Linked DNA regions of Homo sapiens. The protein of the gene in region 1 purifies or fractionates together with the protein of each later gene. This does not show direct contact. Each region holds a gene or a part of one and is shown on either strand. Other genes may lie near its edges.

Region 1 (5,129 bases):
GCTCAGGTCACATTGTGACAAGGTTTTAGTGTAGCCCTACTTCGCAGAAGGAGGCAGAAAAGACGGACTGTCTAGAACCCCCTTTAAAAGCATTTGTCTATTCAGAAAATTTTCCTGAGTAGATCTCTCCAAAGTCTCTTTTAATTGTGATTTCAAGATCACTTTTGCAGGACTCTGGTCTATTTGTTCAGACATCTACTGTGCACAATTACAAGGAGACTAGAACTGAGGCATCTCAAAGAGCACTGTCAAGGTGTGTAGGGAGCCGGGTGGGTGGAGGGAGGCTGGGCTCTGACCCTAGAAACCATGCTTATGAATGCTGTTAATGTTTAAAGCAAGCCTAAGGGCACTGCTGAAGGACAGGGGAACAAATAGAATGGACCAAGATTGAGGTATAACAAGAACTCCCAGGCTATCCACCTGCTCAAGGTAAAAAGTGTGATATTACATAGGGCAACCTCTGATTTTGTGAGAGTTCTTCCTAAAGTCACAGTGTATGCCTATTCTATGTTTCCAGATTACTTCATTCTTCCAAACGAGACCAAGTGTGCAAAAGTTCTTTGAACACTATATCAATGTTTTGTGTTCATTATAAATTATGGTTATCGTCCTGCTTGTTATGAAGACTAAGAAAGTAGATCTAGTATTTGGCTCACATAGGTGAAAAGGTGAGAATTTGTTAATCCATCAGTGAAGTCCTTTCATTTGAAAGAGAGGGCCTTTCTATTATCAAAAGCTGTCCTGTGTGAAAAATCACCATGAAAGTACCTGAAACACACAGGCTTGTTGTCCTGTAGACAGAATGGTAGAGTGATTCAGAGCTAATTCTGGGTTAGACTGCACAGGTCTGAATCTATTTGCTCACTGTGTAGTGCTTTAGGAATACAATTTAACCTCTCCGTGCTTCAGTTTCTTTGGCCCTAAGATAGAGCTAATGATAGAAACCAACTTTACACAGTTGTGAAAATTAACTGACTACATGTCAAACAGTCTCTGGCACATAGTATGCATAATGTAAATTATGTGATGAGAAGCGAGAAAAAATAACTTGGGAAAACACTGAATATCATCAAAGTTGAATAGCTAACCAGTAGCTAAAGTCCAAGGTCCCCTCTCTTCCTTCTATGTGGCACTCTTGTTTTTGGTCCATCTACTCCCCTTGGGTGTTACCTCCTTGAGTGAAGTACCTGCTGGAGATGAGAAGAGTGGAACTGGATCTGCATGACAGCTTTGATTAGGATGGAGCTAAGACTTGGTTATCTCCCTGTTTTGTGTTTTGGATGGGTGACATTTTAAAACTGCCAACATTAAAATCTTGCTAATTTGCTTTGTACAGTTTAAAATGTTTGATATCTTTTATTGTTTAAAGTTTGAGATTGGTTTTGAATATATGGTTTTCCTACATCTTGAAGAAGGATATGTTTGTTTGCTCTGAAGTGGTCTATGTTCTGTTTTTCTATTTTATTATACTTTGCAAAAAACAGATGGCTGGCTTATGTTCACTGTTGTAGTGCACTACCTAGTATCACTCAGCCTTCCTGTTGTCAAGGTGTAGGAAGCAGTGTAAGGGATGTTGGGCCTTCAGACCCCCAATTGCCAACTCTGGTCCTAGTTCCAGATTGCATGGACATATTTGATAACATTCCTGCACTGAGTTATCACGGTCTGAATATTTATGTGATGCTCTACGAGTGGTACCAAAATGTTAGTGATGGAATTTTCACTAATGGCACCTTTTCCTGTTTTTAAATTCTAGAATCTTAATAAATCCAAAGTGTACATTTTGGTAATGATTTCATTTAGCTATTTACTCTAAGGACTGCCTTTTAAAGCATTAACTCTGCAATAACTTTAACTTATGAAAAGATTCAGCAGTAAGAATAAAAACTAGGCCAAAGCACAAAGTAATAATCCTTCACAAATAAGATGGAGTTATAAAAATATGGGCATCCTGTGTGTAGCTTTGAAAATAACCGAAGTACTTGGAACTAAAAAGTTAGGTGAACATAAAAATTGTCATAACCAAATCCTTGACAGCTTGATGGATGAAAAGCAGATGGGTTTACACTGTATGGGAGGAGGCATGGATTTTAGGAAGGACAGCATCAGAGAGGGATGGTTAGAAAGTGAACAAGACACATTGCTCTTTGGAAAACAAGGAAAGTCCCTTAATTAGAACAAGGCATGAAATTCTGCCACTAGGTGGCGATGCCCTATAACTTTACAACTTAGGGTACATCACACCAGCACTATGGAAGGTTTCTCCATTCTGCACCCCACCAGCTCCCTCCCCTCCTTCATTTTTCAGGATGACAACACCTTAGAGGTTTATGGCCATCAGGAGAGTTTACTACTAAGCTATATACTGATCTAATGAAACCTAATATATGTTGTGCAATGAATTATGAGTTATTTAGTTTCAGGATTTTATTAATTCAATCAGTTATGACCATATTTCCTTTTATATGATTGTTCACTCTTTATACATACCAGATGACTGTATAAAGAACATCTAATAAAGTCTATAGATGTAAAAAAAATTAAAAAAGAAAAATAAGATAAAGTTAAACTAGAATGGGAATAATGTAATGATTTCATAATATATTTTTTAAAAAAGGAATCCCATATGATTAGAAATTGAAAAAAAACAAACCATGGGTCAAAAAAATCATAAGAGAAATTTAAAAATAATAAATATTGAATGATAAAAATACTATATATAAAAGTCTGTGAAATATTTCTAAAGTGGTAGAAGAAAATTTATAGTTCTAAATTCTTATTTTACAGAAGAACATTGAAAATTAAGATGCTAAAGATTCAACTCAATAAATTAGAAAAAGAACAATAAAAGGAAAGTAGAAGAAAGTTCAATATAAAAATAAAAGTCAAAATGATTAAAATAGGAACCAAATATCCAATGACGAGGCTCGATGAAAGCAAAAGCAAGAAATACATTAGAAAATTGATTATTGTAATTTATCACATGGTCACACTGTGATATTAATGGTGAAGAAAGGATATGAAAGTGGCAGTACATATAGACGGGAAAAAACTTCATAATATTTGTAATAAAACCTCTCAGCAAACTAGGAACATTAAGAAAGTTCCTTAACTTGAGAAAGACAATCTACTAAAAAAGGTGAAACTTTTGTAGAATTTAGGAACAAAATAAGGAAATCCTCTACCAATGCTGTTGTTCCTCTTTGTACTGAAGATCCTAGCTAGCACAGTAATATAAGGTAAAGAAATATTGTAAAGAAACTGTCATTATTCAAAATATAATTAATTAACAGATAATCCAAGAAAATCTATACATTATTAGAATAAACAGAATTTAAGAAGGCTCCAGCATATAAAATAAATATACAAAAATATCAATCATGTTCCCATTTACTAGAAACAATTAGAAAATGTAGTTAAAAAGATGATATATTTCACAGTAATAATAGAAACTATAAGTACAAGTGAATCTAACAAAACATTTCTTCAGATTACACTATTATTATGAATATGTTTTCATATAATGTAGAATATAGTTTCAATTTTATCATTTGCTGCTATCTTTTTGAGTTTTGTTTGGCTACTTTTTAATGTGTCAAAACCAACTCTTTTTTTTCTCTTCCTCCTCTTAATAATTTTTGGTAAAGAGATTACCTTAAAAAGCACAACTTCCAGGTTCAGGACACCAGAAAAAGCAGGGTAGCATTGTAAATAATCTTCATTGTTTTCACCAGGTGAACTATTATATGAATGCACCAGGGAAATGGAGTCATACTGCAATCACTCAAAGACTGAAAAATAGTAAAAAATATTGTGGCATCATTTTTTCTGTTTTTGTCCATCTCTTTGTCCCTTGGTCTCCTCAAATCATTATCCTTCCCATACCTCTATTTCAATGATTTATTCCTATAAAACAGTTGTATACATAGTATTAGAAGGGATGTATTATATAGAAGTTTAGAGCATAAACTCTGGAATCAGGTGTTCTGGGTTCAAAGCTCAGCTCAGCTACTTCTTGCTGTGTAACTTGTGGCAAGTCATACAACTTCCCTTGGTCTATACAAACTTCTCTAGTAGAGTTGTGATTAAATAAATTATAACATGCAAAGCCCTTTAGAAAATTGGCACATAAATCTTCAGTAAATATTGGCTATTATTACAATTATCAGTGATTTGAATCACTTGGAGGGGAAATTATGTAGCTACTGCACTTATTGTTTTGTTCTTTTGTTTTCTTTTCTTTTTCCTTTTTATTTTTTAAAATTATTTATTTATTTATTTTTTACACCGAGTCCCGGTCTGTCGCCCAGGCTGGAGTGCAGTGGCATGATCTCGGCTCACTGCAATCTCTGCCTCCTGGATTCAAGCGATTCTCCTAATTCAGCGTCCCGAGTAGCTGGGATTATAGGCACACAACACCATGACCGGCTATTTTTTTTTTTTTTTTTTTTACTTTTAGTAGAGATGGGGTTTCGCCATATTGGCCAGGCTGGTCTCGAACTCCTGACCTTAGGTGATCTGCCCACCTCAGCGGCACAAAGTGCTGGGATTACAGGCGTGAGCCACTGCGCCCGGCTGCTCTTTTGTTTTCTATCTGAGCAATTTTCTCCCTACTCCCTGCAACCTTCCACTCCACTACCCCTTTGAATAGAGGTAAACATGTGAGAAGTAAAACTGTATGGAATGACAGGGAGATGCTTTCAAGTAAAATAGATTTCTATTTTTTTTTTTCTATGCATTACCACCAAACCCAATGTCTAAAACTTTTTTGGTCGCCAAAGTTGTCCCATCATTCATTGATTTATTTATTGAAATATCTGTTTCACTCCTATTATGTACTAGGCACTATGCCTTGGCCATCCATCCCCTACAGCTCTCAGAATAATTCCTACCCATTGCAAGGGCTTCATAAAGGTTTACTGCACGAATGAAGAAAAGATGCTTCTCTCCTTTGAATTAAAAGGATCTATAAAACTTGGGTCAGATTCAGTTTTATAATTTGCATTCTATAAAGTTCATCTAAATATCAGAGATTCCTTTTCTGATAGTAAGAATAGGAATCTTAAAATACAAATAGTAGCACTTGATGGATATTGGAATGAAGTATATGCTCAGCATAACATTTAAGG
Region 2 (4,315 bases), on another chromosome or scaffold:
GACAGGGCAACATAGTGAGACCTTGTCTCTACTAAAAGTAAAAAGACTAGCCAGGTATGGTGGCACACACCTGTAGTCCCAGCTACTCAGGAGGCTGAGGTGGGAGGATCATTTGAGCCTGGGAGTTCAAGGCTGTAGTGAGCTGTGATCGTATCACTGCATTCCAACCTGAGTGACAAAGCAAGACCCTGTCTCAAAAATGAATGAAAGAAAGAAAGAAAGAAAGAAAGAAAGAAAGAAAAAGGTTAAAGTCTAAATGGAAAGAATCATTTTCTATCCAAGCATTCTACAGTTTTTCTAAGGATACAGAAGTCACAACTGAATTTCAGTCTCATATTTGCAAACATCGTCATTTCAGATAGTTGTTTCATATGCACCAAAGGAAACTACCTTGAAACTGTATATTACATACATTAAAACATTTTTTTAGGCCAGGTGCAGTGGCTCACGTCTGTAATCCCAGCACTTGGGGAGGCCGAGGCAGGCAGATCAACTGAGGTCATGAGTTCGAAATCAGCTTGGGCAACATGGCATTATCCCATCTCTACTAAAAATACAAAAATTAGCCGGGCGCAGTGGCTTATGCCTGTAATCTCAGCACTTTGGGAGGCCGAGAGTTTGAGACCAGCCTGACCAACATGGAGCCCCGTTTCTACTAAAAATACAAAATTAGCCAGACGTGGTGGCACATGCCTGTAATCCCAGCTACTCGGGAGGCTGAGGCAGGAGAATCTTTTGAACCCAGGAGGCGGAAGTTGCGGTGAGCCAAGATCACGCCATTGCACTCCAGCCTGGGCAATAAGAGCGAAACTCTGTCTCAAAAAAAAAAAAAAAAAAATTAGCCGGGCATGGCAGCAAGTGCCTGTAGTACCAGCTTCTAGGGAGGCTGAGGCAGGAGAATCACCTGAACATGGGAGGTGGAGGTTGCAGTGAGCCAAGATCACACCACTGCACTCCAGCCCGGGCAACAGAGCAAGGCTCCATCTCAAAAAAAAAAAAAAATTAGTTTTAATTTAGTTGTTTATTCACTTGAATCAGGCATCTCCAAAACTTAAAATGTTGGCCCCTGACACAGGTGTCACACCACAAGCTACTAATAGAATTCACCCAGCACACTAAAACCTTACTACATTGCCACCAGGACCACAGTGTGAGGAGCAACAATGGTAGCAAGAAGTATCCGGAATTTTATGTAATAAACTTTCTGAGTGGGGTCTAGAGAGACCTAGCTCACTCTAAATTGTGCCTTTTAGAAGGTATTGCCATAGCATGACTCTAGCTTATAATTTTAAATGAGTTAATGAATACTCATTTAAAATTTCTTTTGGTTGTTCATTTTGAGACAGTCTCACACTGTCACCCAGGCTGAAGTGCAGTGGCATGATCTTGGCTAATCACAACCTCCGCCTCCCTGGCTCAAGCCATCCTTCCACCTCAGCCTCCTGAGTAGCTGGGACCACAGGTGCACGCTGCCACGCCCAGCTAATTTTTTTTTTTTTTTTTTTTTTTTTTTTGTAGGGATGGGGTTTTGCCATGTTGCTCAGGCTGGTCTCGAACTCCTGGGCTCAAGCGATCCACCTGCCCCAGCCTCCTGAAGTAGTGAGATTACAGGTGTGAGCCACTTGCACCCAGCCTCTCACTTAAAATTTCTAATACATTCTGCTACCATCTGTGAGTACAAAACCATCTAAGTAAAATAAGAATAGTTTGGCATTTGGAAGTAATTTTTTAAAACAACATTCATATTAATTTAAGGAGCATAACAGATTCCAGTGAATGTTATGATTCGCTATTGTAACATTATTCTAGTAAATATGTTGGAGAAGAACAGTTCTAGTGAATTAACTATGGTTTTGGAAGGCAGCTATGCTCACCATCATACCACCAACACAACTATGGTTTTATTTTATATTATTTATTTTATTTTTGAGACAGAGTCTCGCTCTATCGCCCAGGCTGGAGTGGCACAATATCAGCTCACTGCAACCTCTGCCTCCTGGGTTCAAGGGATTCTCCTGCCTCAGCCTCCAAAGTAGCTGGGATTACAGGCATGCACCTCCACGTCCGGATAATTTTTGTATTTTTAGCAGAGACGAGGTTTCAACATGTTGGCCAGGCTGGCCTCAAACGCCTGACCTCAGGTGATCTGCCCGCCTCAGCCTCCCAAAGTGCTAGGATTACAGGTGTGAGCCACCGTGCCTGGTCACAACTATGGTTTTATAATCAGCAAATGGCATTTAATAATGTGTTAGTATCAAACAAAACTGGGCAGCAACAGAGACCAATGCACATTCTTCTTGGTGTGTCAGTAGGAACAAATACAGCAAATTAAAAATTGTCTGCTAGAAAATCAAAGATCACAGAGATGTTTGGATCAGTCCCCTCCTCTCTTCTGAGGATGAGACTCAAATCACAGGAAGAAAAGTTACTCAAGAATCCTCTGGAACAGCCCAAGTGCAGGTTCAACTCAAACACTACTACCAACATCAGTAACAGGATTTAAGTTTTTTTTTTTTTCTTTTTCAGAAACAGAATCTCACTATTTTGCCCAGACTAGCCTTGAACTCCTGGGCTCAAACAATCCTCCTGCCTCAACCTCTCAAGTAGCTGGGACTATAGATGCGTGCCACCACGCCCAGTAGTTCCTGGATTTAAAACATCACTGTTAGTAAACTCTGGGCAGACTTTTCCTGAAGGAAGTGGTAAGAGAGGGCAGGAAGCTCACAGGCATCCCTAACAGCTTATTTCCTTTCCCTTAACATCTTGAGGAATGAGGCCTGGAGGAAGAGAACCATGTTGTATTTCTGTGACGCTCAGCCAGCATCCATTTTATTGGAATAACAAAGGATTTGTTTAAAGAGCAGCAGTGCTTATGGCTTATAGCCCTGAAACACCAGATTGAGAAGAAATATCAACTTGACCCTACTTACAGGAGTTGTGCCGACGACGGAAACTTTTGGACTGACTCAAGGATTCCATGTGCCTGTCGACATAGCTCTTTGAGCACTGTTGCTGCTGCGGGGAAACGGCAACATCCTGGCTCTTCACATCTGTCCTCTTAGGGATATTCTGAGGGGCACTGCTGGAAGAGGCTGGCTTCTTGACAAACTTGCCTGTGCCATTCTGATTGATGCCCACTTGGCAGCCAGCACCAGAGGGGCCTAATTCTGTTTGATGAAGGTCTCCAAAATGTTGGTTGTCTCCAGGTCCTGGTATCTCCAGAATTTTTAACTCCGTAATGTCACCTGCCCTGAAATACACAAAAAAGCCAAGTCTCAAAATTATAATAGTGGTAAGAATGATGAAACTGAGATCATTAGCAAACAGCTACCCCTTTGCAGGACTGCATTTTATTGAGTTATCAGAGGCTAGGAAAGGGGGCTGTGTGCTTAAGGACAGGGGTCAGCCACCAACTATCCAACTGACACAATGCTAGCCTTTAAAAAGAGGCTATTGGCCGGGCACGGTGGCTCACGCCTGTAATCCCAGCACTTTGGGAGGCCGAGGCGGGCGGATCACGAGGTCAGGAGATCGAGACCATCCCGGCTAAAACGGTGAAACCCCGTCTCTACTAAAAATACAAAAAAAAAAAAAATTAGCCGGGCATAGTGGCGGGCACCTGTAGTCCCAGCTACTTGGGAGGCTGAGGCAGGAGAATGGCGTGAACCCGGGAGGCGGAGCTTGCAGTGAGCCGAGATCCCGCCACTGCACTCCAGCCTGGGCGACAGAGCGAGACTCTGTCTCAAAAAAAAAAAAAAAAAAAAGAGAGGCTATTGCTAACAACAAAACTGTATTAATCTTACATTCCCACAATGTTTAATGGCTTTTGTTCATTCATTCACTCCCTCGCTCATTCAACAGGAGTATATAAAATACTTACTATGTGGTAAGCCCTGCACTATGAACTATTTTGATCTGGTATATAGAGATGAAAACCACTACGTGCCCACAGGAACTCAGTCTGGTCAGTGGAAAAGACAAGTACATATTCAATCAAAAGTGTTAAATGGACTGGGCACCATGGCTCATGCCTATAATCCCAGCATTTTGGGAGGCCGAGGCAGGCGAATCACTTGAGGCCAGGAGTTCGAGACCAGCCTGGTCAACATGGCAAAACCCTGTCTCAACTAAATAGAAATGATTAGTCGGGTGTGGTGGTACGCACCTGCAATCCTAGCTACCCAGGAGGCTGAGGCATGAGAATCGTTTCACCCTGGGAGGCAAAGGTTACAGTGAGCAGAGATCGCACCACTGCACTCCAGCCTGGGCAACAAAGTGAGACTCTGTCTCAAAAAAAAAAAATTTTTTTTTTTAA

What was found. The genes of interacting proteins can lie anywhere in the genome.
Region 2: the proteins of NBDY (region 1) and EDC3 purify together in Homo sapiens (co-immunoprecipitation; one study listed by IntAct). This does not show direct contact.

What each region holds. Positions count from the first base shown.
Region 1 is NC_000023.11:56,730,725-56,735,853, reverse strand, and holds part of NBDY (negative regulator of P-body association), read right to left. Parts: intron 3,792-5,129; 3' UTR 3,655-3,791; intron 1-3,654. UniProt on the Homo sapiens protein: Promotes dispersal of P-body components and is likely to play a role in the mRNA decapping process.
Region 2 is NC_000015.10:74,668,525-74,672,839, forward strand, and holds part of EDC3 (enhancer of mRNA-decapping protein 3), read right to left. Parts: intron 3,251-4,315; coding exon 2,931-3,250; intron 1-2,930. UniProt on the Homo sapiens protein: Binds single-stranded RNA. Involved in the process of mRNA degradation and in the positive regulation of mRNA decapping. May play a role in spermiogenesis and oogenesis.